2 separate regions of the Homo sapiens genome follow, and region 1 is linked to region 2. Evidence: fine-mapped expression QTL. A gene starts in region 2. The other region holds a variant in brackets. All regions are shown on one strand. Distances are from middle to middle.

What was found. PIP is the estimated chance that this variant, and not a neighbour inherited with it, causes the effect.
Region 1: its variant is fine-mapped to the expression of TAF13 in subcutaneous fat (TwinsUK, PIP 0.95).

What each region holds. Positions count from the first base shown.
Region 1 is chr1:109,048,698-109,064,196 of GRCh38, reverse strand. TAF13 (TATA-box binding protein associated factor 13) reads left to right here. Exons shown (of 4, transcript NM_005645.4): 4 at 1-57. Among named protein-coding and RNA genes, the nearest start is that of WDR47, 14 kb to the right of the region's middle. The variant C/T (reference allele first, on the strand shown) is at 8,367.
Region 2 is chr1:109,072,810-109,088,171 of GRCh38, reverse strand. TAF13 (TATA-box binding protein associated factor 13) reads left to right here and starts at 12,169. Exons shown (of 4, transcript NM_005645.4): 1 at 12,169-12,251; 2 at 13,107-13,185. The coding sequence starts at 12,225. TMEM167B-DT (TMEM167B divergent transcript) reads left to right here and starts at 3,422. Exons shown (of 2, transcript XR_947688.3): 1 at 3,422-4,957; 2 at 9,526-9,880. RefSeq lists enhancers at 11,912-12,161, 12,262-12,321, 12,926-13,912.

The sequences.
Region 1 (15,499 bases), 24 kb after region 2:
AAGCTATACTGTAGCTTTTTTTTTTTTTTTTTTTTTTTTTGAGATGGAGTCTCACTATGTTGGCAGGCTGGAGTGCAGTGGCGTGATCTTGGCTCACTGCAGGCTCCACCTCCCGGGTTCAAGTGATTCTCCTTCCTCAGCCTCTCGAGTAGCTGGGAAGTACAGGCGCCTGCCACCACGCCTGGCTAACTTTTTGTATTTTTAATAGTGACGGGGTTTCACCATGGTAGCCAGGATGGTTTTGATCTCTTGACCTCGTGATCCACCTGCCTCGGCCTCCCAAAGTGCTGGGATTACAGGTGTGAGCCACCGCGCCTGGCCTACTATAGCTGTTTAATATGTGAAATCTAAATGGCATTTTTGACTTGACAGCTCAGACTTGTACTTCATGTATTCAGAAGTTTTTAGACAACAATTAGTTTATTGTCTAGTTCATTATTAAAGATAATGAACTAGGCCGGGCGTGGTGGCTCACACCTGTAATCCCAGCACTTTGGGAGGCTGAGGCGGGCAGATCACTTGAGGCCAGGAGTTCCAGACCAGCCTGGCCAACATGGCAAAACCTCACCTCTACTAAAAATTAAAAAATTAGCCAGGCATGGAGGCATGTGCCTGTAATCCCAGCTACTTGGGAGGCTGAGGCAGAAGAATTGCTTGAACCCAGGAGGCAGAGATTGCAGTGAGCCGAGATGGCGCCACTGCACTCCAGCCTGGGCAATAGAGTGTGACTCTCAAAAAAACAAAGATAATGAACTGGTTTGCATTTCTTTTAAAGAGATGATAGAGGAAAATATAGTTTTTTGTAAGAATGTTTATCTCTCTTAAAAGATAATCTTTTAATTTTCTTCAGATAACAAGTTATTATTATTTTTTAAGAAAGCAAGTTTCACGGGCCGGGCGCGGTGGCTCACGCCTGTAATCCCAGCACTTTGGGAGGCCAAGGCGGGCGGATCACGAGGTCAGGAGATCGAAACCATCCTGGCTAACACGGTGAAACCCCGTCTCTACTAAAAATACAAAAAATTAGCCGGGCGCGGTGGCAGGCGCCTGTAGTCCCAGCTACTTGGGAGGCTGAGGCAGGAGAATGGCGTAAACCTGGGAGGCGGAGCTTGCAGTGAGCCGAGATCGCACCACTGCACTCCAGCCTGGGCGACAGAGCGAGACTCCGTCTCAAAAAAAAAAAAAAGAAAGCAAGTTTCACATGAATAATGCTGTGTTGGAAGGCTTTTTGATTTAAAATCTTTTCGGATTTATAACATCCTGTTAAGTTTTAGGAGAACCCGTTTTCCCAGAGCAGATTCAAGCTTCTAAAAATAAATGCTTTCAGTAGCAGGAATGGCATTGTTTAAAAAGCTGATGGCAGGGTAAGCATTTGGGTTAGTGTTTTATTAACATATTTGTAAGTACTTGTTCATTGTGGAAATGTGTCCTTGACTAAAACCATACGTGGCTATGGAAACCATGTTTGTAGTTCTGAATACACAGGTTTTGTGTGTATTTACTCTATGTATTAAATTATTATTGCCCTTAGTTTAAAGTAAGGATTACAATTGGATTTAAGTAGATCACTGAATGTTATTGTTTATGAAACTTAACTTTTTGTATGCTGCTTATAAACATGATCTATAAATCAGTGCTTGGGAAAATTTTACTTTCTTAATCTACTGATACAGGAATAAAATATGAACAATTAAACAGGTTGATCCTTGAATCTGACTGATTTGTGACTTTTTTTCCTCCCAGAATATTATGCCCATTACTGGTAATATGATAATTCTTGCTGCTTAGTCTAGCTGAAAATTTTTTTTATTTCAGTGAGTATCTGGGTGAATCTTTTCATTTAAAAAAGCAGGACTGGGCCGGGCGCGGTGGCTCAAGCCTGTAATCCCAGCACTTTGGGAGGCCGAGGCAGGTGGATCATGAGGTCAGGAGATCGAGACCATCCTGGCTAACACGGTGAAACCCCATCTCTACTAAAAAATACAAAAAAACTTAGCCGGGTGTGGTGGCGGGCGCCTGTAGTCCCAGCTACTCGGGAGGCTGAGGCAGGAGAATGGCGTGAACCCGGGAGGCGGAGCTTGCAGTGAGCCAAGATCACGCCACTGCACTTCAGCCTGGGGGACAGAGCGAGACCCCGTATCAAAAAAAAAAAAAAAAAAAAAAAGCAGGACTGGGCACCATGGCCCATGCCTATAATCCCAGCACTTTGGGAGGCCTAGGCAGGAGGATCTCTTGAGCCCAGGAGTTGGAGACCAGTCTGGGCAACATAGAGAGACCCCATCTCAACTAAAAATCAAGGCCAGGCACAGTGCCTCACACTTGTAATCCCAGCACTTTGGGAGGCCAAGGCAGGTGGATCACTTGAGGTCAGGAGTTCCAGACCAGCCTGGCCAACATGGTGAAACCCTGTCTCTACTAAAAATACAAAAAAATTAGCCGGGCGTGGTGGCATGCCTGTAGTCCCAGCTGCTTGGGAGGCTGAGGCGAGAGGATTGCTTGAGCCCAGGAGTTGGAGACCAGCCTAGGCAAGCCCCATCTCTGTAAAAAAAAAAAAAGAGCCAGGCACAGTGGTTTCCGCTTGTGGTCCTAGCTACTCAGGAGGTGAGGTGGGAGAATCACTTGAGCCTGAGAGGTCAAGGCTTCAGTAAACTGCTCACTCTGTCACCCAGGCTGGAGTGCAGTGGCACAATCACTGCTCACTGCCTCGACCTCCTGTGCTCAAATAATCCTCCCACCTCAGCCTCCCGAGTAGCTGGGACTACAGGCATGCCTGGCTAGAGAACCTATTTCACTGTGTTGCCCAGACTGAGTGGGGCTTTGCGTTGACTATTTTAGGTTGCAAGTGATATAACTTAACTCAATACTATTAATAGCATAAACAAGGAATTTATTGGCTTACCTAACCGACACATGGGAAAGGGGATGGAGCTGAATTTAGGGTTGACTGGATCTAAGTACTTGAGAAGCAAGACTGTCTCTCTGTCTTTTATCCTAATTTTGGTTTTATTCTAAGAGTGGCAAATGAACATGATGGCCAGCAGTTCTGGGGTTCCCTCCTTACAACTCCAAATTGAAGAAGCTGCTTTACTTCGTAATAGAGAAAATTCCAAGCAAGGATTATGAGGATCCGAGCTCTGCTTATTTTCTTCCTGGACCAGTCACTATGGCCAGGAAGAAGTTGTACTATAGCCCGGATCTCTTGCCCCACTTCTGGTAAAAAAGAGCTTGGAATGGGATTGGGATACTAGATACTGCTATTAGCAAAAAGGGGAAAGAGGCTCGGCGGGCTGACTTGATGCCTGAGCTTACTTATTAACTTCAAATTCTGGTAGTAAGGTGGCATGGCTGTCTTCCAGTATTTAGAGCTGCACTGTGTAAATGGTAGCCACTAGCCACATATGGCTGTTTACATTTTAAAATGAAAAATTCAGCTGGGTGCGGTAGCTCACGCCTGTAATCCCAGCTTTTTAGGAGGCCAAGACAGGCAGATCACTTGAGGTCAGAAGTTCAAGACCAGCCTGGCCAACATGATGAAACACCATCTCTACCAAAAATACAAAAATTAGCCGGGTGTGGTGGTACGTGCCTGTAATCCCAGCTACTCGGGTGGCTGAGGCAGGAGAATTGCTTGAACCCAGGAGGCAGAGGCTGCAGTGATCCGAGATCGTACCACTGCACTCCAGACTGGGCAACAGAGTGAGACTCTGTCTCAAAAAATAAAATATTTAAAAAATGATAATAAAATGAAAAATTCACTTCCTTAGTTGCGTTTGCTATATTTCAAGTGCTCAAAACCCTTATGGTAAGTGGGTACAGCATTGGACAGTGCTGATATGGAACACTGCCATCATCACAGAAAATTCTTTTGGACAGTGCTGATCTGGAGTATATATAGGTGCTCTCTCCTAAATTAATTCACTTTTTTTTAAACTTCCTATGGAAAATCTCAAGTATACACAATAATAGTGTAACTAGCCCCCAGCTTCAACAAGTAACCAACTTTTTGCCAATTTGTCCTATCCCCCTACCTTTAAATAATTTTCTTATTTTTAATTTTGGACCTTGGTTTTAGAACCCTTACCTTTTTTAAGGTAGGGGGGCAGTATTATTTTAAAGCAAATCTGGCTGGGTGCGATGGCTCATGCCTATATTCCCAAAACTTTGGGAGGCCAAGGCGAATGGATCACCTGAGGTCAGGAGTTCAAGACCAGCCTGGCCAACACAGTGAAACCCTGTCTCTAATAAAAATACAAAAATTAGATGGGCATAGTCGCGGGAGCCTGTAATCCCAACTATTCGAGAGTCAGGCAAAAGAATCCCTTGAACTCGGGTGGTAGAGGTTGCAGTGAGCCAAGATCGTGCCATTGCACTCCAGCCTGGGCAACAAGAGTGAGACTCCATCTCAAAAAAATAAAAAATAAAAACAAAAGCAAATCCCAGACATCCTTGTATCATTTCATCTATAAATGCTTCAGTACATATCTTTTTTTTTTTTTTTTTTTGTGACATAGTCTCACTCTGTCACCCAGGCTGGAGTGCAGTGGCACGATCTTGGCTCACTGCAACCTCCACCTCCTGGGTTCATGCGATTTTCCTGCCTCAGCCTCCCGAGTAGCTGGGATTACAGGCATCTGCTACCATGCCCAGCGAATTTTTGTATTTTTAGTAGAGATGGGGTTTCACCATGTTGGCTAGGCTCGTCTTGAATTCCTGACCTCAAGTGATCCACCTGCCTCAGCCTCCCAAAGTGTTGGGATTACAGGTATGAGCCAATGTGCCTGAGCTTCAGCACATATTTCTAACAAAGTTTAAAAAGCCCACATATTATTACCATATCCTATCAAAAATTAACACTAATTCCTCAATATTCCATCTAATACCCAATTCCTGTTAATTTTTTTATTTTTTTGAAATAGGGTCTTGCTCTGTTGCCCAGGCTAGAGTGCAGTGGCATGATCATGGCTTACTACAGCCTTTGCCTCCTGGGTTCAAGCAGTCCTCCCACCTTAACCTCCCAAGTGGCTAGGACTACAGGTGTGCAGCACCACAACTGGGTAATTTTTAAAATTTTTTTGTAGAGAGACAGGTCTCACTATGTTGCCCAGGCTGGTCTTGAACTCCTGGGTTAAAGCAATCCTCCTGCCTTAGTCCTGCCAAAGTACTGGAATGATTGCAGGCGTGAGCCACAGTGCCTGATGCCAAATCCTGGTTTAAATCTTGCTGATTTGTCTCAACATATCTTTTTTGAGTGTGTGTATTAATCTCAATTGTTACTGTAACAAATTACAGCTCATTTAGTGACTTAACACACATTTATTATTTAACTAGTTCTCTAGGTAAGAAGTTTGACCCTAGCTCGGATCACGAGGTCAGGAGATCGAGACCATCCTGGCTAACACAGTGAAACCCCGTCTGTACTAAAAAATACAAAAAAATTAGCCTGGCATGGTGGTGGGCACATGTAGTCCCAGCTACTCGGGAGGCTGAGGCAGGAGAATGGTGCGAACCCAGGAGGCAGAGCTTGCAGTGAGCCGAGATTGCGCCACTGCACTCCAGCCTGGGCAACAGAGTGAGACTCCACCTCAAAAAAAAAAAAAAAAAGTTTGACCCTAGCCTTACTGTGCTAAAATCAAGGTGCTGACACAGTTGTGTTCCTTTCTGGATGTTCTAGGAGACACCTGTTTGCTTGCCTTTTACAACTTGTAAAGGCTACATTTCTTGGCTCATGTTACCCTTCTTCAAAGCTAGCTAGCAATGTTGCATCTCCCTGGCCTGTGACTCCAGCTGGTAAGGATTCTCTGTGATATTGGACCCACCTGGATAACCCAGAATACTCTCCCCATTTCAAGGTTCTTAAGTTAATCATGGAAGCAAAATCTCTTTTTACCATGTCAAGTAACATATTCTCAGGTCCTGGGAATTAGGATGTGGACTTTTTTTTTTTTTTTTTTTGAGATGGGGTCTCGCTTTGTGACCCAGGCTGGAGTGATCATAGCTCACTGCAGCCTCCAACTCCTGTCAAGCAATCCTCCTGCCTCAGCCTACAGAGTAGCTAGGGCTATAGGCAACACACCACTATGCCTAGCTAAAGGAAGTAGACATCTGTGAGGGGTTATTATTCTGCTTCCCACATTGTCTTTGAAGTAGGATCTAAACAAGGTGTCACCCATTGCATTTGTTTGGTATGTCTAAATTTCTTTTAATCTATAGTAATTCCCTCCAAGCTTTGTGGCTTTTTGTTGTTGTTGTTAGAGACAGGGTCTTGCTCTGTCACTCAGGCGGGAGTGCAGTGGCAGGATCATAGCTCACTGCAGCCTTGAACTCTTGGGTTCGTCATCCTCATGCCTCAGCCTCCCAAGTAGTTAAGACTACACTGCACCTGGCTAATTTTTTTCTTAATTTTGTAGAGATGGAGTCTCACTATGTTGCCCAGGCTGGCCTTGAACTCCTGTCCTCAAGCCATTCTTCTGCCTCAGATTCCCAAAGTTCTGGGATTATAGGCATGAGCCACGGTGCCCAGCCTCCAATTTTATTGAAGCACTCTCTCTTTTTTTTTGAGACCGAGTCTCACTCTGTTGCCCAGGCTGGAGTGCAGTGGCGTGATCTTGGCTCACCACAACCTCTACCTCCCAGGTTCAAACAATTCTCCTGCCTCAGCCTCCTGAGTAGCAGGGATCACAGGCAGGTGCCACCATACCCAACTAATTTTTGTACTTTTTTAGTAGAGACAGGGGTTTCGCCATGTTGGCCAGGCTGGTCTCAAACTCCTGACCTCAGGTGATCCACCTGCCTCAGCCTCCCAAAGTGCTGGGATTACAGGCGTGAGCCACCATGCCCGGCCGGAAATGGTGTTCTTGAGTAAAAACTGTAATAGTGTAAGTGTAGAAATTTTAAAGTGGAGGAAAGAGCTCACTTGGCCTGTCATCAGTGGAGAAAGGTGCTGCCTGGAGAGTCATCTGGCCATTTTCCAAGAGACTTTGGGAGGTTGCATTACTTGAATGAGTATACTATAGTCCAGAGCCAGAGTTTGATTTGCAGCATTGCAGGCTTAGAAACTGATTTCATCAGCAAATAGCACATTCATCTCTGTGGGTGCGCTCATAGAATCCAAACTTATAAGACCAATGTATGAAAACGGATACCAGTTTATAGATGTAAGTAAAACTTGCACCTATATGATCAGCACATTCTTCCTTCTCTAGACATACACATGTAGGAAATGAAAACAAAATTATGAGGGTGAATGACAGTGAGAGGAGTTACATGAATGCATCGTCTAGAGCAGTGGTCCCCAACCTTTTTTGTACCAGGGACCAGTTTTGTGGAAGACAGTTTTTCTACGGACTGGGGTGAGGGTGATGGGGGGATGGTTTCGTGATGATTCAAGCGCATTACATTTATTGTGCACTTTATTTCTATTATTATTACATTGTTTTATTTTTTTACACACACGCCCATTTAATTATTTTTATTTTTATTTATTTATTTATTTATTTTTGAGATGGAGTCTCACTCTGCTGCCCAGGCTGGAGTGCAGTGGGGCGATCTTGGCTCACTACAACTTCTGCCTCCCAGATTCAAGCGATTCTCCTGCCTCGGCCTCCTGAGTAGCTGGAATTACAGGTGCCCGCCACCACACCCGGCTAATTTTTGTATTTTTAGTAGAGACGGGTTTTCACCATGTTGGTTAGGCTGGTCTCGAACCCCTGACCTCGTGATCCGCCCGCGCTGGCCTCCCAAAGTGCTGGGATTACAGGCGTGAGCCATTGTGCCCTGCCTAATTTTTTTTTTTCTTAAAGAGATGAGGTCCTGCCATGTTGCCCAGGCTCATCTTGAACTCTTGGACTTAAGCCATCCACCCGCCTCATCCTCCCAAAGTGCTGGGATTACAAGTTTGAGGCACCGCACCCAGCCTAAAACCAAAAACTTTTTAAAGCCCTGCCTACATCACAGAACACACCCATTTCTCTAGGTCTGATTTTCTTACAGTCCCCATGTTTTCCTTCTTGCCACAAATAGATACTGGAAGTGTGGATGATCAGGGAACAAAGTGTTAAATGTGTTGTTGAAGGCTGCTGCTTTTCCTGGGCCCTTGTAAATGACTACATGAGTTATTCACACCATTAAATTATGCGATAGGGCAGTCTGGGCCCTATCTCTACAAAAATAAGAAATAAAATTAGCGAGGTGCAGTGGCACGCCCTTGGAGTCCTAGGTACTTGGGAGGAGTGGTCCTAGATGGGAGGATCACTTGAGTCCAGGAGTTCGAGGTTACAGTCAGCTATGATTGCACCACTGCACTCCAGCCTGGGCAACAAAAGGAGACCCTATCTCAAAAATAAAAAAAATGAAAAAATCTGCCCAGT[C/T]CTGTAAATCTAGCACCTCTGGAAGCCAAGGTGGGAGATTCATTTGAGGCCAGGAATTCAAGATCAGCCTGGGCAATATACTGAAACCCTGTCTCTTAAAAAAAAAGAAAAAGGCCAGGCGCAGTAGCTCACACCTGTAATCCCAGCACTTTGGGAGGCCGAGGCGGGCAGATCACCTGAGGTCAGGAGTTTGAGACTAGCCTGTCCAATATGCAGAAACCCCGTCTCTACTAAAAATACAAAATTAGCCAGGCATGGTGGCACACACCTGTAATCCCAGGTACTCGGGAGGCTGAGGCAGAAGAATTGCTTGAACCCAGGAGGCGGAGGTTGTGGTGAGCTGAGATCGCGCCATTGCACTCTAGCCTGGGTAACAAGAGTGAAACTCCGTCTCAAAAAAAAACAAAAACAAGGCCGGGCGCGGTGGCTCACGCCTGTAATCCCAGCACTTTGGGAGGCCGAGGCGGGCGGATCACGAGGTCAGGAGATCGAGACCATCCTGGCTAACACGGTGAAACCCCGTCTCTACTAAAAATACAAAAAATTAGCCGGGCGAGGTGGCGGGCGCCTGTAGTCCCAGCTACTCGGGAGGCTGAGGCAGGAGAATGGCGTGAACCCCAGGGGGCGGAGCCTGCAGTGAGCCGAGATTGCGCCACTGCACTCCAGCCTGGGCGACAGCGAGACTCCGTCTCAAAAAAAAAAAAAAAAAAAAAAAAAAAAAAAAAAAAAAAAACAAAAACAAAAACAAAAAGAAACACAAAAATTATGGGATTGGTTCAAGGAAAACGTTTTCATATATTGAGTATTTATTAAACACCTATTGTATCTGAGACAGCATAGGTATCATTTTGTTATGTGGTATCCAGATAAGTGGAGTAAGTGGAATTCTTTTTTTTTTTTTTTTTGAGACGGAGTCTCACTCTGTCACCCAGGCTGGAGTGCAATGGCATGGTCTCGGCTCACTGCAAGCTCTGCCTCCTGGGTTCAAGCGATTCTCCTGCCTCAGCCTCCCGAGTAGCTGGGACTACAGGCTTGTGCCACCACACCTGGCTAATTTTTGTATTTTTATTTTTGTATTTTATTTGTATTTTATTTTTGAGACGGAGTTTTGCTCTTGTTTCCCAGGTTGGAGTACAGTGATGCAATCTTGGCTCACTGCAACCTCCACCTTCCGGTTTCCAGCGATTCTCCTACCCAGCTAATTTCTGTATTTTTAGTAGAGATGGGGTTTCACCATGTTGGCCAGGCTGGTCTCAAACTCCTGACCTCGTGATCTGCCTGCTTCGGCCTCCCAAAGTACTGGAATTACAGGCATGAGCTACCGCGCCTGGCTTAATTTTTGTATTTTTAGTAGAGACAGAATTTCACTATGTTGGCCAGGCTGGTCTCGAATTCCTGACCTCATGATCCACCCGCCTCGGCCTCCCAAAGTGTTGGAATTACTTTGGGCGTGAACCACCACGCCTGGCATTTTTTTTTTTTCCAAGACAGAGTCTTGCTCTGTCACCCAGGCTGGAGTGCAGTGGTGCAACCTCGGCTTGCTGCAACCTCCACCTCCCAGGTTCAAATGATCCTCCTGCCTCAGCCTCCTGTAGCTGGGACTACAGGGGCACGACATCATGCCCAACTAATTTTTTTTTTTTTAGTATTTATTGATCATTCTTGGGTGTTTCTCAGAGAGGGGGATTTGGCAGGGTCATAGGACAATAGTGGAGGGAAGGTCAGCAGATAAACATGTGAACAAGGGTCTCTGGTTTTCCTAGGCAGAGGACCCTGCGGCCTTCCTCAGTGTTTTGTGTCCCTGGGTACTTGAGATTAGGGAGTGGTGATGACTCTTAAGGAGCATGCTGCCTTCAAGCATCTGTTTAACAAAGCACATCTTGCACCGCCCTTAATCCATTTAACCCTGAGGGGACACAGCACATGTTTCAGAGAGCACGGGGTTGGGGGTAAGGTTATAGATTAACAGGATCCCAAAGCAGAAGAATTTTTCTTAGTACAGAACAAAATGGAGTCTCCCATGTCTACTTCTTTCTACACAGACACAGTAACAATCTGCTCTCTCTTTCTTTTCCCCACATTTCCCCCTTTTCTATTCGACAAAACCGCCATCGTCATCATGGCCCGTTCTCAATGAGCTGTTGGGTACACCTCCCAGACGGGGTGGCGGCCGGGCAGAGGGGCTCCTCACTTCCCAGACGGGGCAGCCGGGCAGAGGCGTCCCCCACCACCCTCCCGGACGGGGCGGCTGGCCGGGCGGGGGTTGCCCACGACCTCCCTCCTGGACGGGGCGGCTGGCCGGGTGGGGGCTGCCCCCCACCTCCTGGACGGGGCAGCTGCCGGGCGGAGACGCTCCTCACTTCCCAGATGGGGCGGCTGCTGGGCGAAGGGGCTCCTCACTTCCCAGACGGGGTGACTGCCGGGCGGAGGGGCTCCTCACTTCTCAGACGGGGCGGCCGGGCAGAGACGCTCCTCACCTCCCGGACGGGGTGGCGGTCGGGCCGAGAGGCTCCTCAGTTCCCAGACGGGGTCGCGGCCGGGCAGAGGCGCTCCTCACATCCCAGATGGGGCGGCGGGGCAGAGGCGCTCCCCACATCTCAGATGATGGGCGGCCGGGCAGAGACGCTCCTCACTTCCTAGACGGGATGGCGGCCGGGAAGAGGCGCTCCTCACTTCCCAGACTGGGCGGCCGGGCAGAGGGGCTCCTCACATCCCAGAGGATGGGCGGCCAGTCAGACGCTCCTCACTTCCCAGACGGGGTGGCGGCGGGGCAGAGGCTGCAATCTCGGCACTTTGGGAGACCAAGGCAGGCGGCTGGGAGGTGGAGGTTGTAGCCAGCCCAGATCACGCCACTGCACTCCAGCCTGGGCAACATTGAGCACTGAGTGAGCGAGACTCCGTCTGCAATCCCGGCACCTCGGGAGGCCGAGGCGGGCAGATCACTCCATGTCAGGAGCTGGAGACCAGCCCGGCCAACACGGCGAAACCCCGTCTCCACCAAAAAATGCAAAAACCAGTCAGGCGTGGCTGCGCGCGCTTGCAATCCCAGGCACTCTTCAGGCTGAGGCAGGACAATCAGGCAGGGAGGCTGCAGTGAGCCGAGATGGCGGCAGTACAGTCCAGCCTCTGCTCGGCATCAGAGGGGAGACCGTGCAAAGAGGGAAAGGAAGAGTGGGAGGGGGAGGGAGCCCAACTAATTTTTGTAGAGACAAGATTTCACAGTGTTGGCCAGGCTGGTCTGGAACTCCTGACCTCAAGTGATTGCCCACCTCAGCCTTTCAAAGTGCTGGGATTACAGGTGTGATTCTGATAAGTGGAATTCTAAAGTTAGAAATAGGGCTGGGTGAGGTGGCTCATGCCTATAATCCCAACACTTTGGGAGACCTAGGCAGGCAGATCACTTGAGCCAAGGAGTTTGAGACCAGCCTGGGCAACATGGCAAAACCCTGTCTCTACAAAAATTAGCTGTGTGTGGTGACGGGCGCCTGTAGACCCAGCTACTGAGGAGGCTGAGGTGGGAGGATTGCTTGAGCCTCGGAGGTGGAGGTTGCAGTGAGCTGAGATTACACCACTGCACTCCAGCCTGGGCAACAAAGCAAGGTCCAGTCTCAAATAACTAAATACAATGAAATAAAGTAAGGAGCAAATTTCTTATGTGTTACCAGTAGATTGATAGAAGTTCCTATTTGAACTTTTGTACAAAATCTCATGTTATTTGTAGCACTGAGACTTCCATGTATAATACTTTATTATGGTTATACCTAATATTATGATTATTTCTGCTTACACAGAGAACCTGGTAGACTGCCTTGATATCATTGGGTACATTCTTTTAGGATCAGAACAATTGCTAAAGCAAAAATCATTTTTCAATTTGTATTTGCATGGCCATTTTAGATAAATAACTGAAATTTTATTGGAAAGAGCCTGTATAGTTACTGACCAAGCTCTAAAAGAAATGCTAATACTATACTTATTTTTTCTGAAATAGGGTTTTTGTAAGTATTTTGGAGGCATATGAACTTATAAGACACCAATCAAGACTTGTTTTGGTGATTATGACATTTCTTCCATCTTTATAGGAAGTTCTACTAAATGGTCACAAGTTTATTACCGGAAACTTTCTAACCTTATCCTAAAACACTTATCTGAAATTATGATGCTTAATGTGCTTTAGGTATTACTAACATTTCCTAACATTTAGTTTCCCCTTTTAAAAATTTTGACATATGGCCAGGCACGGTGGCTCACGCATGTAATCCCAGCACTTTGGGAGGCCGAGGCAGGTGGATCACGAGGTCAGGAAATCAAGACCATCCTGGCTAACACGGTGAAACCCTGTCTCTACTAAAAAAAAAAAACACAAAAAATTAGCTGGGTGTGGTGGTGGGCGCCTGTAGTCCCAGCTACTCGGGTGGCTGAGGCAGGAGAATGGCGTGAACCCGGGAGGCAGAGCTTGCAGTGAGCTGAGATTGTGCCACTGCACTCCAGCTGGGGCGACAGAGCGAGACTCTGTCTCAAAAAAAAAAAAAAAATTTACATATTTCACTGACTTGATTAAAGTGGATGTTTTCCAAAATAATTTATTTTATTTTTATTTTCAAGAATATATCAGATATTTACTTAATATAAATAACAGCATATCTCTTTTATGTACAACCAAGTTTTTGTTTAGAGGTCTAGATAGGAGCCCTGGAAGACCCAGGTAATTCTACCTCTGTTGCCCAGATTGGAGTGCAGTGGCGCGATCTCAGCTCACTCCAACCTCTGCCTCTTGGGTTCAAACGTGCGCCACCACGCCCTGCTAATTTTTGCATTTTTCAGTAGAGACAGGGTTTCTCCATATTGGCCAGGCTGGTCTCAAACTCCTGACCTCAGGTGATCCGCCCCTCTCAGCTTCCCAAAGTGTTGGGATTACAGGCGTGAGCCGCGGTGCCTGGCCCTTGAATCTGTTTAAAGGAGAAGCAGCAGTGGTGGTGCTTTGTTCTCCTAAAGCCTCACTTAGGTTAATTCCATATCTTGGTTAGGTGCTACTGGCTCTGAAGCACAAAGCTTTTTGATGTGTGTATGTATGTGCGTGTTCTAGTAATGGGAGTGGAGCTTCTAAAACACGTTCTCTTAGCTCCACAAACTTCCCCTGAATTCCTTGAGGCAAAGTTTCCTAGCTTGGGCTTGTACTCAGACTCCTTTCTCCTATTTGGGGAAAACCAAAAACTCCTATTCTCCTTTTTAGAGATAACATTTAAGAATCACATTAAAAGAGGTCCACCTTAGCCTATAGGCGTTTAAGTCACAAGGCACCATGAATCATTCTGTCATGTAAGAACCTGCATTTCCAAATGATGCCTAACCTAGTTCCTGACCCAGAACTGGCATTCAGTTAATATTTGGTGAATGATTGAGGCAGTACCTTGGAATCTGAGGACAGTCCTTCATCTAAGCAAGCCTTGTCCTCTTTGAACAATTGACTGCTATTGCAGCAACTAGAGTGAAAGACAGGAAGATCTAATCTTAACCAGTGTGGCTGAGTATAGAAGGAAAGGTGATACCTTAGGCTACCAGCTATTAAGGTTGTAGTGTAAACTTTGATGTTACATTAAGAAACAAATATACAGTCAATGCGTTTATAAGTATGCAAGTGATAAGATGTACCAGATGTCTTGTGTTTCGGTGCCTCTTTCTTTCTCTCCTTCCACCTTCTTTTTTCCAGAAATATAATGGTGGTATATTTGCTTCTAACAATGTTGAGTCCTATTCATTGAAAATGCATATGCAAATAGCACTATGCTATAGGTTATGGAGAATATAAACACTAATAAGACCTCTTATCTTCTCTACCTTGTCAGAATAGGGTCCATTTTATTCAAGCTAAAATTTCTGGCTGAGCATGGTGGCTTAAGCCTATAATCCCAGCACTTTGAGAGGGAGTGCAGTGACACAATCATGGGTCACTGCAATCCTTGACCTTCCAGACTCAAGCGATCCTCCTGCCTCAGTCTCTCCAGTAGTTGGGATAACGTGTTACCATGGCAGGCTATTTTTTTTATTTTTATTTTTAGTTGAGATGGGGTCCCACTATGTTGCCCAGGCTGGTCTCGAACTCCTGGGCTCAAGGGATCCTCCCACCTTGGCCTCCCAAAGTGCTGGGATTACGGGCATGAGCCACTGTGTCTGGCCCAAAATTTCTTTTTTTTTTGAGATGGAGTCTCGCCCTGTCGCCCAGGCTGGTGTGCAGTGGCGCCATCTCAGCTCACTGCAGGCTCCGCCGCCTCCCAGGTTCACGCCATTCTCCTGCCTCAGCCTCTCGAGTAATTGGGACTACAGGCACCTGCCACCATGCCCAGCTAACTTTTTGTATTTTTAGTAGAGACGGGGTTTCACCACGTTAGCCAGGATGGTCTCAATCTCCTGACCTTGTGATCCACCCGCCTCGGCCTCCCAAAGTGCTGGGATTACAGGCATGAGCCACCGTGCCCGGCCATCTGGCTCAAAATTTCTTAGAACAATTAGCCAGGCAAGGTGGCTCATGCCTGTAATCCCAGCTACTCAAGAAGCTGAGGCTAGAGGATAGTTTGAGCCCAGGAGTTTGAGACTGTGGTGAGCTATAATCATGCCACTATACTCCAGCCTAGGTGACACTTTAGCCTGGGTGAGAAAGTGAGACTCTGTCTCTTAAATAAATAAATAAATACTAAAATAAAATTTTCAGTTAATATAATGTAGAATGAGGCAGGGCACGGCGGCTGATGCCTCTAATCCCAGCACTTTGGAGGGTGAGGCTGGCAGATCACTTGAGGTCAGGAGTTTGAGACCAGCCTGGCCAACACAGTAAGACCCCGTCTCTACTAAAAATACAAAAAATTAGCTGGGTGTGGTGGTGCACGCCTGTAATCCTAGCTACTTGGGAGGCTGAGGCAGGACAATCGCTTGAACCAGGGAGGGAGAGCTCGAAGTGAGGTGAGATTGCACCACTGCACTTCAGCCTAGGTGAGACTCCCTCTCAAAGATAAGAAATCATACTAATGTGGTAGAATAGAAAAAGAAAGTTTTAAGAGTCAGAATGTCTCTGCTACATACTAGCTGTGTGACCTTGGGCAAGTTATTTTCTTTAATCACTCAAATAGGAATAATTA
Region 2 (15,362 bases):
GGCACAATAATTCCAGCCTTCTGAAATCAGGACTAGAAAATTTTCCTCCATACCACACTGGTGTTTCCTTTGACAGCAACCACTACCTACTGAATAATGCCTAAGTCCTTAGCCTGCTACTCAAGGCCTTCCAATAGTATTTTCCACTGTTCCCTATATGGGCTTTAAGCTTTGTCTATAAAGACTATGTTCTTCAGTTACAGTCTTTGCTTTCTCATTTTTGCTCATGCCACTCACTTTTTAGAGATAATTTTTTCTCCCCATTTTTTTTTAACTAGATGAAAACCTCTTCAGTTTTTGTCATACTCTGAAAGACAAGTCTTTCCTCTTCTGTCATTCTCAGAGGTTAGAATAAAAGTTAATCAGCTGGGCGCAGGGGCTCACGCCTGTAATCTCAACACTTTGGGAGGCCGAGGCGGGAGGATCACCTGAGGTCGGGAGTTCGAGACCAGCCTGGCCAGCATGGTGAAACCCCGTGTCTACTAAAAATTCAAAAAAATTAGCCGGGAGTGGTGGCAGGTGCCTGTAATCCCAGCTACTCAGGAAGCTGAGGCGAAAGAATCACTTGAACCTGGGAGACGGATATTGCAGTGAGCCGAGATTGTGCCATTGCACTCCAGCCTGGGCAACAGAGTGAGACTCCACCACAAAAAAAAAAAAAAAAAAAAAAAAAAAAAAAAGTTAAGCCCGGGCGCAATGACTCACGCCTGTAATCCCAGCACTTTGGGAGGCCAAGGTGGGCAGATCACCTGAGGTCAGGAGTTCAAGACCAGCCTGGCCAACATGGTGAAACCTTGTCTAAAAACACAAAACTAAAAACACAAAAATTAGCCGGGCATGGGGGCGTGAGCCTCCAATCCCAGCTACTCAGGTGGCTAAGGCAGGAGGGAGAATCGCTTCAGACTGGGAGGCGAAGGTTGCAGTGAGCCGAGATTGTGCCACTGTACTCCAGCCTGGACAACAGAGTGAGACTCCCTCTCAAAAAAAAAAAAAAAAAGAATAAAATGTAAAGGCTGGGCATGGTGGCTCACACCTGTAATCCCAGCACTTTGGGAGACCGAGACAGGTGGATCACTTGGGGTCAGGAGTTGGAGACCAGCCTGGCAACATCGTGAAACCCTGTCTTTACTAAAAATACAACAATTAGCTGGGTGTGGTGGTGTCTGTCTGTAATCCCAGCTACTCGGGATGCTGAGGCAGGATAATCACTTGAACCGGGGAGGCAGAGGTTGCATTAAGCTGAGATCACGCCACTGCACTCCAGCCTGGGAGACAGAGCAAGACTGTGTCTCATAAACAGAAAAAAAAAATTAAGGATGAAATCAAAGCTGAAAAACCAGGAGGAGTGATGAATTGGCAAATTACAATTTTTTTTTTTTGAGACAAAGTCTCACTCTGTTGCCCAAGCTGGAGTGCAGTGGTGCAATCACTGCTCACTGCAACCTCTGCTTCCTGGGTTCAAGCAATTCTTCTGCCTCTCCTCCGGAGTAGCTGGAACTACAGGCATGCGCCATCGTGTCCGGCTAAGTTTTGTATTTTTAGTAGAGATGGGGTTTCACTACGTTGGCCAGGCTGGTCTTGAACTCCTGACCTCGTGATCCGCCCGCCTCGGCCTTCCAAAGTGCTGGGATTACAGGCGTGAGCCACCACACCCAGTGGCAAATTCCAATTTTTATTTTATTTTATTTTAGCTTTGAGACAGAGTCTCGCTCTGTCGCCCAGGCTGGAGTACAGTGGCGCCATCTCGGCCCACTGCAAGCTCCGCCTCCCAGGTTCCCGCCATTCTCCTGCCTCAGCCTCCGAAGTAGCTGGGACTACAGGCGCCCGCCACCACGCCCGGCTAATTTTTTGTATTTTTAGTAGAGACGGGGTTTCACCGTGTTGACCAGGATGGTCTTGATCTCCTGACCTCATGATCCACCTGCCTCGGGCTCCAAAGTGCTGGGATTACAGGCATGAGCCACCGTGCCCGGCCTCAAATTACTATTTCTAAAGGGCAGTGATAATGCACACAGTATCTTATGATTAAACAGTTTTCTTTTAACTCCACTCAAAATTTACTTTTTCTTCATTTTCCACGTCTGTCTCTATTCTTCCTACTTTTTTTCTCCCACTCTTAAATTTATTTCTTCTTTCTCCCTCCACCATATTTTTTCTTTTTCATATTGTAAAAGATATTTTACATTTTTTTAATTGAATAGAGTGAGTCTCACCAGGCTATTTCAAAATTAGTTGTATCAAGACTTTTATATTCTAAAATCAAAAAGTTGACCAGGTGCGGTGGCTCATGCCTGTAATCCCAGCACTTTGGGAGGCCGAGGCAGGCAGATCACGTCAAGAGATTGAGATCATCCTGGCCAACATGGTGAAACCCCGTCTCTACTAAAAATACAAAAATTAACTGGGCGTGGTGGCACGCACCTGTAGTCCCAGCTACTCGGGAGGCTGAGGCAGGGGAATCGCTTGAACACGGGAGGAGGAGGTTGCAGTGAGTTGAGGTCGCGCCACTGCACTCCAGCCTGGTGACAGAGTGAGACCCCGTCTCAAAAAAAAAAAAAGTTCAGTTTTCTGTGAAATTAAGTTAGTTCCTTTCTAAGGTTGTTGGAGGATTAAGTGAATTACTATTTACAACAATATCTGACATGAGTAAGTATTCCATAAATGATAGCTATTATTGTTGTTCATTTTGAGGGAAGAGAGAGACCCTCTCATATTGTTCTATACTCAGAAAAGGAAAGAGAAGAGAAACTAAAGGCAGGTAGCCCAGTGCCTAGGAACCACACCTGAAACCAGGCCTAGGCCTGCCTGACCTAAGCCTGGTAGTTAAAATTCGACCCGTGACTTAGCAACTGATGTTATCTATAGATTCCATATATTGTATGGAAAGACATTGTGAAACCTCCAGTTCTGTTCTGTTTCGCTCTGACCACTGGTGCTTGCAGCCCCTGTCATGTACCCCCTAGCTTGCTCAATCGATCATGACCCTCTCATGTGGATCCCCTTAGAGTTGTGAGCCCTTAAAAGCACAAGTTGAGCACCTGAAGAGCTCGGCTCTTGAGACAGGAGGCTTGCCGATGCTCCCAGCCGAACAAACCCCTTCCTTCTTTAACTCGGTGTCTGAGGAGTTTTGTCTGAGGCTCCTCCTGCTACAATTTGTTTTAAAAGTATCTGTGGTTGGCCTGGTGGCTCACGCCTGTAGCCCCAGCACTTTGGGCACTGAGGTGGGCGGATCGCTTGAGCTCAAGAGTTCAAGACTGGCCTGCACAATATAGTGAAAGTCTGTCTCTACAAAAAATAAAAAAATTACCCAGGCATGGTGATGCATGCCTGTGGTCCCAGCTACACGGGAGGCTGAGGTAGCAGAATCACCTCAGCCCTGGAAGTGGAAGTTGCAGTGAGTCATGATTGTACTGCTGCACTCCAGCCTGGATAACAGAGCGAGACCCTGTCTCAAAAAAAAAAAAAAAGTACTTGTCAGTGTCTACTACTGTGTGCTAAGCACTTTGCTTGATTTTGCAGAAATGGGGCATAAATAAGTCCCTGCCCTCAGAGAAGAAAATATGTTGGGTAAGATAGATGAATAAACACATTTTAATAGAACATGAGCATTGTGTAAAGACAGTATCTTTGATTTTCACAACTGTTTTACAGATTTTTTTTTTAATTAAATCTTGAGACTTAAAGAAGGGACGTGGGTGAGATAACATAGCCTGTTAGGATCCATACCCAGGTCTAAGTTCAAAGCTCCCTTTCCCTTGTTATCACACTGCCTCAAATTACAGTGCTTTCCACTGATACTGATCTTTGATTATTTTGTTACAATCATTAATGTTTCTGTCACCCTGGAAAGTCTCATAGCCTCACTGCCACCCAGTGCAGTCATGTCTCACATCAGGCCAAAGCCTGGGTGACCAGCTCTTGCAGCCCAACTGCAAAGAATAAATAGAGCCTACTGGCCTAGGGACTCTCAATTCAGACAGTTCTTCCTCAATTCATTTCAGTGTTCACTGGAGAATTGGTAGTTGTTGCCAAACGCCTGTCAGTCAAGAACAGTGGCCTGTTTGTTAGGGTTGTTGCAGTTATTGTGGTGAACACTAATCAGTCATGGGGACCATGACTGTGGCATTCTGGTTTAACCAAAGAGTAAGTTGAGCCTCAAAGGCACAGCTTGCAACAATAGCTTCATTTGAATTACAACATATTTGAAAAGGGATGTCAAATAGGCATTAATTTATGCTACAAACATTTGTTCCAGGACTTCTAAATCTAAGGAATGTGCTAGCCTTTGGGAACTCAAAGATGAATGAGAAATAGACTCTGTTCTTAAAAAGTTTAAGATTTAGTAGAAAAAGATAAGCTGTGTTTATAAATAACCAAAAAATACAGCAGAAAGTGAGAAGTGTCCAAGGAAAATGAAAACTAAGTGCCAGGGTGGCGGGGGGGTGCGTAGAAATGGGAAACTGCCTTCAGCTGGAGCGTTCAGGGAAGGCTTTATTGAGGAGCAGACATTTTAGCTGGGCCTGAAAAGCTTATAGCATTTCAATAAGCAGAAATAAAGAGCATTCTAGTGGGGAGGGAATTGAGCCATCAAAGCCCTGGAGAGGGAAAGTGTAAGGTAAGATTGGGGCACAGTAAAGCCTCCCTTCCTCCTTCAATGGCTAACTCACATTCATCCCTCAAGTCCCAACTCAGACCTCACTTGCTCAAGGTAGACTTCTCGGACCTTCAGTCTACTTCCCTGATCATGTTTCCAAAGCATACTATATCTGTTTAACTTATGTCCCCCTGCTATATTGTAATGTTCATTTGTTTTGTCATTTTATCCACAATCCCATAGCTAGTGCTAAACATTTTGCAAGTGCTTCATGAATATTTATTGCATGAATAGTTGAATGTGGCCTTGTGGAACTGGAATGCAGAGCTCATGAAGGAGAACAGCAGAAGATAATGGTGAAAGGTAGGCCCTTAAATAAAAACAACTGCCGGGCACGGTGGCCCATACCTGTACTCCCAGCACTTTGGGAGGCCAAGGCGGGCGGATCACCTGAGGTCGGGAGTTCAAGACCAGTCTGACCAACATGGAGAAACCCCATCTCTACTAAAATACAAAATTAGCCAGGCGTGGTGGCCCATGCCTGTAATCCCAGCTACTCGGGAGGCTGAGGCAGGAGAATCACTTGAACCCGGGAGGCAGAGGTTGCCGTTAACCAAGATTGCACCATTGCACTCCAGCCTGGGCAACAAGAGTGAAACTCCATCTCAAAAAATAAAAAAAAATAAAAACAATGATACTTATGGAATATTCACTACATGCCAGGTACTACCCAAAACACTTTATGGTTATTAACACATCTAATAACCTCATAATAACCTTATATGGTTAGTAACTATTATTATCCCCCTGTCATAGATGAGGAAATGGGTGTACCAGCAGGTCAAGTAAGTTGTCTCAAGGTAACATAGCTGATAAATAGTACACCTAGGATTTCAGACTCAACCTATCTGATCTCAGAGTCTGCATATTTAACCATGGACCATAGGAAGTGTGGTTAAGACTCCATTAAGATTATTGCAGAAATTCTGAAAGCCATTTTAAAAGTGACATAACCTCACTAAGCCCAAATTAGGGAGAAGCACTGTAGACGTCTACACCCTGGGATGGAGGGGTGAAAGTGGAGGTAGGGGTGGGACTGCAAAGCTTCTGCCTTGATTTGGAGTCTGAGTGGTGCTACCTGCCTACCAATATCCCATCACTAACACCTCTCAGACCCACCATCCAGCTCCTGCTTTCCTCATTTCTGATAATCCCACCCCTGCCATTCCTTCCAAATTACTCTCATAGAGCTCCATTTCTTCCTTCTATCAATTACCTCTCTGCTGATTCCATTCTTTTGTGAACAAATCTCTTTGGTCATTACCTTTTTCATTAAAAGCTCATTCCATTTTTTTGCTGTAATGAAAAACAGGATTTTCTGAGCAGTTAGCTAAATGGCTGGGATAAGTTCACAGCTTCATTCATTCAGTAATCATTTATTCAAAGTCCACATTCCTAGGTCCTAATGCCCTCTTTTTTCTTTCTTTTTTTTTTTGAGACGGAATCTCGCTCTTGTTGCCAGGCTGGAGTGCGGTGGCATGATCTCGGCTCACTGCAACCTCTGCCTCCCGGGTTCAAGCGATTCTCCTGCCTCAGCTTCCCAAGTAGCTGGGACTACAGGTGCGTGCCACCACGCCCAGCTAATTTTTGTATTTTTAGTAGAGACGGGGTTTCACCATGTTAGCCAGGATGGTCTCAATCTCTTGACCGCTTGATCCGCCCACCTCGGCCTCCCAAAGTGCTGGGATTACAGGAGTGAGCCACCGCTCCCGGCCTTTACTGCCCTCTTAAGGCTACTTTCCTCTTTGCTTTTCTACCTTCAGTATCCAACTATGTACTCGTTCTTTAACCTGTTATAATCTGGCTTCCATCTTCACCAACACCCTCAAACTTTGTTCTCCAGATCATTCCCATACCTCCTAATTGTCAAATCCAAGGCCTTTTCTTAAATCTTCAATCTTGTGGCCGGGCGCGGTGGCTCAAGCCTGTAATCCCAGCACTTTGGGAGGCCGAGGTGGGCGGATCACGAGGTCAGGAGATCGAGACCATCCTGGCTAACACGGTGAAACACCATCTCTACTAAAAATACAAAAAAAAATTAGCCGGGCGCGGTGGCAGGCGCCTGTAGTCCCAGCCATTCGGGAGCCTGAGGCAGGAGAATGGCATGAACCCGGGAGGCGGAGCTTGCAGTGAGCCGAGATCAAGCCACTGCACTCCAGCCTGGGCGACACAGCGAGACTCTGTCTCAAAAAAAAAAAAAAAAAAAAGAGAAATCTTCAATCTTGTAATCTCTGGCACTGAGCACTCCATGCCACCTGCTTTTCTTTGTTGGTTTTGTTTTGTTTTGTTTTGAGACAGAGTCTTGCTCTGTTACCCAGGCTGGAGTGCAGTGGCATGATCTTGGCTCACTGCAACCTCCGCCTCCTCGGTTCTAGCTGTTCTTCTTCCTTAGCCTCCCGAGCAACTGGGACTACAGGTGCTCGCCACCACATCTGGCTAATTTTTTTATTTTATTTTTATTTTTTGTATTTTTAGTAGAGACAGGTTTTCATCATGTTGGCCAGCCTGGTCTGAAACTCCTGACCTCAAGTGATCAGCCCAAACCTGCTTCTTTTTGAAACTTTTTCTTTTTGGGTTTTCAGTTTTTCTCCTCCCTCTCCTCCTCCTTATCCTACTTTTATCTTTTCCTACCTCTTTGACTATTCCTTCTGTCACTCTGTCTCCTTGATGTACTGTTTCTAAGGCTGTGCCCTTTGCCTCTATTCTCTCAGCCTTTGTTTCCGTGCAATCTCTAGACTATCACTTTGTGATGGTATCTCCCATGTCATTTTCTCTAGTACTAATTTTTCTTTCTTTCTTTCTTTCTTTTTGTGTGTGTGTGTTTTAGTAGAGACAGGGTTTCACCATGTTGCCCAGGCTGGTCTCGAACTCCTGAGCTCAGGGAGTCCACCCACCTTGGCCTCCCAAAGTGCTAGGATTACATGCGTGAGCCACCACACCCGGCTTCTAGTACTAATTTTTCTGTGGATTTCCGGGCCTGTAATTCCTGGCCTGGATTTCCATCAGTTTTAGTACATCTCCAGACTCTCAAACACAGACTAAACTCATTTCCTTCCACTTCCAACTTCTTTCCCCTTTTTCTTTCCTATTTATATTAATAGCATTCCATTCTTCTGTCAATAGCTTTCACATTCATTGTCACAAAGTCCTGTAAATTGTCTCGTAAAGTTTGTGTTAAATCAGTTCCTTCTTCCTCTTTGCCTTAATTCAGATTATAATCATCTCTCATCCTAGTTTCCCCGCAAAAGTGATCTTTTTAAAAACTGTAAAGTCATGTGACACATCTGTTTAAAGACTTCCCAAGAACTCTGTAGTTTGAAGTTCAGTCTCTGAAGAGAACATTTAAGGCCTTTCACACGCAAATTCCAGCCTCGTTTCCTGCATCCCCACCCAAAAAACTTGGCTCTGGCAACCCACAGAGAACATCTTGTAGAAGCACACCATGACTTTTTACTCTGTGTTTTCCTTCTGCTCTGCTTATCACACTGCAATTTTTTTTTTTTTTGAGACGGAGGCTTGCTCTGTTGCCCAGGCTGGAGTACAGCGGCGCGATCTCGGCTCACTGCAAGCTCCGCCTCCCGGGTTCATGCCATTCTCCTGCCTCAGCCTCCCAAGTAGGTGGAACTACAGGCGCCCGACACCACGCCCGGCTAATTTTTTGTATTTTTTTTAGTAGAGACAGGGTTTCACTGTGTTAGCCAGGATGGTCTCAATCTCCTGACCTCGTGATCCGCCCGCCTCGGCCTCCCAAAGTGCAGGGATTATAGGCGTGAGCCACCACGCCTGGACTGACACTGCAATTTTTTTTCCCCCACTTTGTGTTTTGGATCTCAGGTTCACAGGATTGAATTATTCACATGCCGCAGCTCATGGCATAGTATTACAATTGGCCCTTCCAAAGTCCTTCACTTTTTATTTATCAATTTATTCCTTTTATCCTTATTCCCATTTCTCCTACACTGCAACTTTCTAGTGTGTTTAATGTTTACGCTTTTTTATATTTTCCTTTAAAATAAGTAGTATTTTTAATTTCTATAAATGGTATTATATTATAGATTTTATTGTTTCTTTTTTAACTTAGCACTGTTTTCAAGTTCTGTCCATGTTGCTAAATCTATTGCTTCTGATTGCTGCATTGTACTCCGTGCTGTGCATCCAGCATATTTTACCTATCTACTCCACTGATAACAGACACTATGAATGTTTTATGCCTGACCTCCTGGACACTGGATCACTACCTAAAAGCAGTTCTCAAACCTATCAGGCTCAACAATCTCCTTTAAATATTAATAACAAATACAGTGTCTCCATTATTGTGTAGTGAAATTCAAAAATAATATAATTTACTGTGGTAGGTGACCTCTCAGAAAGCCCCCAGTGATCTCCCCAGCAATATTCTTGCCCTTATGTAATCCCCTCTCCTTGAACTTGGGCTGCACTTTTTTTTTTTTTTTCTGAGATGGAGTCTTGCTTTGTCGGCCAGGCTGGAGTGCAGTGGCACCATCTCAGCTCACTGCAACCTCCGCCTCCCGGGTTCAAGCAATTCTCCTGTCTCAGCCTCCTGAGTAGCTAGGATTACAGGTGTGCATCACCACACCCGGCTAATTTTTGTATTTTTAGTAGAGACAGGGTTTCACCATGTTGGCCAGGCTGGTCTCAAACTCCTGACCTCCTGATCCGCCCACCTCGGCCTCCCAAAGTGCTGGGATTACAGGTGTGAGCCACTGCGCCCAGCCCTAGCTGCACTTTTTTACTTACTTCTAGTGAATAGAATAGGGCAGAAATTATAGGATGTCACTTCCAAAATTAGGTAACAAAAAACCTGTGATTTCTGTCTTTTGGGTTCTCCCACTTGTGTCCTCTGGAGGAAGGCAACTGGCACATTGTGAGCTGCCCTATGGAGTGGATTACATGGCAAGGAACTGAGGGAGACCTCTGGGCAACATCCATTAAAGAACTGAGGCCCTTAGTCCAACAACCTGGAGGAAGTGAAACCTCCAGCAACCTGTGAGTGACTCTGGCAAATTCTCCTCCATCAACACTTGAGGTATGACTGCAGCCCCAGCCAACATCCCGACTGCAACAGGAGGGACCTTGAGCCACAGGCACCCAGTTAAATTGCACCCACATTGCTGACCCACAGAAACTGTGTGATATTTGTTTTAAGCCACTAAGTTTTGGGGTAATTTGTTACAGCAATAAATAACTAATATATCTACCTACTCACATAATTTTGAAAATAACATAATATCCTAACAGGATCCAGTGATCCAGTGGCCAGGAGGTCAGGCATAAAGGTAATATAAAAGTAAAGTAAAAATAGTAACATTTGTTTCAATATATAAATACTCAGGTATGATGGCACTAGGGGGGGATAATGAAGATTTCAGATGCTTCTACCTATATGTAGAATTGCTTTGAATGCAGACTGATTTGGGTGAGTATTGTCGACCTAAAAGGAAGAAGCTGAGGCAAAATTAATATAAATAGAGAGTTTATTTGGGCCAAACTTGAGGATTACAACTCAGCAGCATAAAGTTGCCTAGAATATACACTCTAAGATTAGCAGCAGGTACAAGTGGATTTTTAAAGGAAAAGAATGAGGACAGGGAGTGGGCTGATACAAAGTTGTCTTTAAGGAGTTCTCATTGGTTCACAAAAATAACATTGATTAGTAATTGGCTAAACATTATCAAGCTATAGGGTGTGCGATATGGTGTCTGATGGGGCATAATTAGGCTAATTTATAACTAATACTTGTGGCAATAGCAAGCGGTTTTAAGACATAAATACATAGCTCAAAAGGGGGCAAGCAGGATGTGATTGCCTCTCATTTTAATGCCTCTTTGGGCCTAATAATTTAACTCACATTCCTCAAATCAAAGTTATTTTTTCATTATTCACTATTCAAATTATTACAAGTGATGTTGCTTTTGGTGACGTTATTTCTTGAAATGGTACACAGCTCTTAATGAATTCCAGACCAAACAAAATACAATTACTATTCAATTTTGGGGTAATAACATTCCTAGAAACTTCAACGTACATTAAAAGTGTGGGAAAATGCTTTGTGTTTATTTTTTTAATTTTTATTTTTTGAGGTGGAGTCCCGCTCTGTCACCAGGCTGGAGTGCAGTGGCACAATCCCGGCTCACTGCAACCTCTGCCTCCCGGGTTCAAGCGATTCTCCTGCCTCAGCCTCCCGAGTAGCTGGGATTACAGGCGTGCGCCACTACGCCCAGCTAATTTTTGTACTTTTAATAGAGACGGGGTTTCATCATGTTGGCCAGGATGGTCTTGATCTCCTGACTTTGTGATCCGCCCACCTCGGCCTCCCAAAGTGCTGGGATTACAGGCGTGAGCCACTGCGCCCGGCCGCTTTGTGTTTATTAACAAAGATAGGTTCAACTCTCAGATAATTAGTTTTCACTCACCGAATGTTCAGCAGGACATTCAGAAATCGTGTGTATTACGGGATTTTCTTTATGTAGCATCATCTGTTACACTGTAGGGACATTTATATTATATCCCTAGCTCTGGCCTTCCGATGCCTGTGGTTTTGCCAGCCATTGTTCTGACCAAAAGCCTTCCCCGGTGGACACGGTGGCTCACACTTGTAATCCCAGCACTTTGGGAGGCAGAGCGGGGCAGATCGCTTGAGGCCATGAGTTCCAGACCAGCCTGGGCAATGTGGGGAAACCCCATCTCTACTAAAAATACAAAAATTAGCTGGGCATTGGTGGTGTGCGCCTGTAATCCCAGCTACTTGGAGGCTGAGGTGGGAGGATGGCTTGAGCCCAGCAGGTCTAGGCTGCAGTGAACCCTGATTGCGCCACTTCACTCCATCCCGGGGGACAGTGAGGTTGTGTCTCAAAAAAACAAAAATAAGGCCGGGCATGGTGGCGCACGCCTGTAATCCCAGCTACTCGGGAGGCTGAGGAAGGAGAATCACTTGAGCCCGGGAGGCAGAGGTTGCAGTGGGCCGGGATCGCGCCACTGCACACTTCAGCCTGGGCGACAGAGTGAGACTTCGTCTCAAAAAAAAAAAAAAAAAAAATCAAAAAACCTTCACAAAATTTTAAATGCTTAGTCTCGGGACACCATCTCTTGGAAATTTGTGATGAAGCACAGTATCCCCAATAATTAACACAGTGCTTAGAAACAGTGGAACTACAAATCTTTAAAATGATTTAAAAGCATATTTGTCTGATAAAGGACTGCTGGCTTGCCCTCCTATGATCCATAGCTTCGCAGTCCCCAAACAAGAAGCTGTGATTCAATACGCAGTAGCAAATTCAGGGTGACAACGAGATACTCGCGACCTAGCCCGTGATTTCCTTTTCTTTGTTAGTTTTCAATTCCTTCGGGATTACAGGGAGGCGCTCCGGCCTCCTCCCTTAGAGACTGTCGCATTTCCGCCGCTAGGCCGGAAAGCACCACCGTCCTCCCGCAGGCCGCAGAGGGCTAGGCCCAGCTACGGCCCCGCGCGTCACCGGAAGTGAGGCGGCGGAAGTAGTGTAACCAGCTGGGAGCCAGCCGGCAGGACGCTGTGAGTTGGCGTGCTAGTGGGATGGCAGATGAGGAAGAAGACCCCACGGTGAGTGACCGTCTCTGTCCAAAACCTGTCTTTTCTTCACTCCTTCGGGCTCAGTAGCGGAGGCAGAGTTCAGGATCGGGTCTGCTTGCCTTAGTGAATTCAGCGGACAGAGTTCGGGGACTTCACGCCCTAAGGATTGATCATTTTAGAAAGTGGGGAAGGACATGAAGGAAGAGTAGGTTTTGTGACCCCTTTCCCCTTGATTTTGGTCTGTATTTGCCAGACACTGAAACACGTACAGAATCATCAGAGATCAAAACTAACATCTATTAGCGCGCACTATGAGCCAACAGTTCAATTGTTAACAAAACTGTACTTACTGTGAAGTAATGGGAAAAGAATGCATTGAAAGTCAGACAGCCTGGATTTCAAAATTTCCATTCTCTCTGAGCAAGTTATTTAACTTTGAACATCAGTTTTCTTTTTATAAAATAGGGTTACGGGCTTACTTAAGGAACGTTTTTAGCACTGTATAAGCAAATGCATAGGAAATATTAGTTTTGCTTACTACAAAGTCTACAAAGGTAGACTTTGATTCAGTATCAACTGTTTAACAGTAACAGTAGTAATAGGCCACCTTAGTTGTTTAAAAATAAAACTTATGGTCATTGGAACTCTTACAAGTAGAAGCAGTAGGATTATTAGTTAGGAACATTGTAGAAGCCATTTTTGCATGAGTTGGAAGTTGGACTAGATACATAGGCTCCTTCAATGCTAAGGTTTCGTGGTTTTTTTTTTTGCTGCTTCCTTTGGCTTTCTGGCCTATCTGTTGAAAAGGAAAAAAAAATGTCATTATTAAAATATCAAATGCAAGGCAATTATTTGACATTTCTATATATACATTTTAACTTCTAGTTTGAGGAAGAAAATGAAGAAATTGGAGGAGGTGCAGAAGGTGGACAGGGTAAAAGAAAGAGACTTTTTTCTAAAGAATGTAAGTAGTATTTGACAATGATTTTGTTATAGATGATGAAAACTTTTGGACATGTCCTTTCAAAGTAGCTTTATTGCTTTGAATGTTTCCCTGTAGGGATAATATTCTCAGACTAGCCTATCAAATTCTGTTTAACTTTTGAATCAGATAGTACCAATCCTAACCCCAATTGTGTGTGTGTGTATAAATTGCTTTTTTTTTTTTTTTGAGACGGAGTCTCGCTCTGTCGCCCAGGCTGGAGTGCAGTGGCGCAATCTCTGCTCACTGCAAGCTCCGCCTCCCGGGTTCATGCCATTCTCCTGCCTCAGCCTCCTGAGTAGCTGGGACTACTGGCGCCGGCCACCACGCCCACCTAATTTTTTTTGTGTGTTTTTATTTTGCTTTATTTTATTTTTTTAATTTTTTTAGTATTTATTGATCATTCTTGGGTGTTTCTCAGAGAGGGGTATTTGGCGGGGTCATAGGACAATAGTGGAGAGAAGGTCAGCAGATAAACATGTGAACAAGGGTCTCTGGTTTTCCTAGGCAGAGGACCCTGCGGCCTTCCTCAGTGTTTTGTGTCCCTGGGTACTTGAGATTAGGGAGTGGTGATGACTCTTAACGAGCATGCTGCCTTCAAGCATCTGTTTAACAAAGCACATCTTGCACCGCCCTTAATCCATTTAACCCTGAGGGGACACAGCACATGTTTCAGAGAGCACGGGGTTGGGGGTAAGGTTATAGATTAATAGCATCCCAAGGCAGAAGAATTTTTCTTAGTACAGAACAAAATGGAGTCTCCTATGTCTACTTCTTTCTACACAGACACAGTAACAATCTGATCTCTCTTTCTTTTCCCCACATTTCCCCGTTTTCTATTCGACAAAACCGCCATCGTCATCATGGCCCGTTCTCAATGAACTGTTGGGTACACCTCCCAGACAGGGTGGCGGCAGGGCAGAGGGGCTCCTTACTTCCCAGATGCGGGCGGCCTGGCGGAGGCGCTCCTCAGTTCCCAGACGGGGTCGTGGCCGGGCAGAGGCGCTCCTCACCTCCCAGACGGGGTGGCGGCCGGGCAGCGGTGCTCCTCACCTCCCAGACGGAGTAGCGGCCGAGCAGAGGCGCTCCTCACATCCCAGACGGGGCGGCCGGGCAGAGGTGCTTCCCCACATCCCAGGGGATGGGCAGCCAGGCAGAGACGCTCCTCAATTCCTAGACGGGGTGGCAGCCGGGCAGAGGCTGCAATCTCAGCACTTTGGGAGGCCAAGGCAGGCAGCTGGGAGGTGGAGGTTGTAGCGAGCCGAGATCACGCCACTGCACTCCAGCCTGGGCAGCATTGAGCACTGAGTGAGCGAGACTCCGTCTGGAATCCCGGCACCTCGGGAGGCCGAGGCGGGCAGATCACTCGAGGTCAGGAGCGGAGACCAGCCCGGCCAACACGGCGAAACCCCGTCTCCACCAAAAAATACAAAAACCAGTCAGGCGTGGCGGCGCACGCCTGTAGTCAGGCAGGGAGGCTGCAACGATCCCAGATCGCTGCAGTACAGTCCAGCCTCGGCAACAGAGGGAGACGGTGGAAAGCGGGAGACGCAGACGAGGGGGAGGGGGAGGGAGAGCTTTTTTTGTATTTTTTGTAGAGACGGGGTTTCACTGTGTTAGCCAGGATGATCTCGATCTCCTGACCTTGTGATCCGCCTGCCTCGGCCTCCCAAAGTGCTGGGATTACAGGCGTGAGCCACTGCACCCGGCCTATAAATTGCTTTTTAAGTGAGCAAATGTAATTAGTGTTTTAATTTAGGGCAGAAGAACATACCTCCATTAGTTTTCCTCTTGCCTTTACAGCAGTAGAGAGGCTTCTTTGACTGTAAGCCACAGGTAATAATGGATCCTGCAACAGGTGTTGAGGGAGAGTAGCAAGTGAGTTGGGGCTTGGGCTTTGGACTAAGGCCCTGAACAAAGTAAGAAGGTGGTGAACAGCTGGGTGCAGTGGCTCACGTCTGTAATCCCAGCACTTTGGGAGACTGAGGCGGGTGGATCACTGGAGGTCAGGAGTTCGAGACCAGCCTGGCCAACATGATGAAACCCCGTCTCTACTAAAAATACAAAAATTAACCAGACGTGCTCGCTTGAACCCAGGTGGCAGAAGTTTCAGTGAGCCAAGATTGCGCCACTGCACTCTAGCCTGGGTGACACAGCAA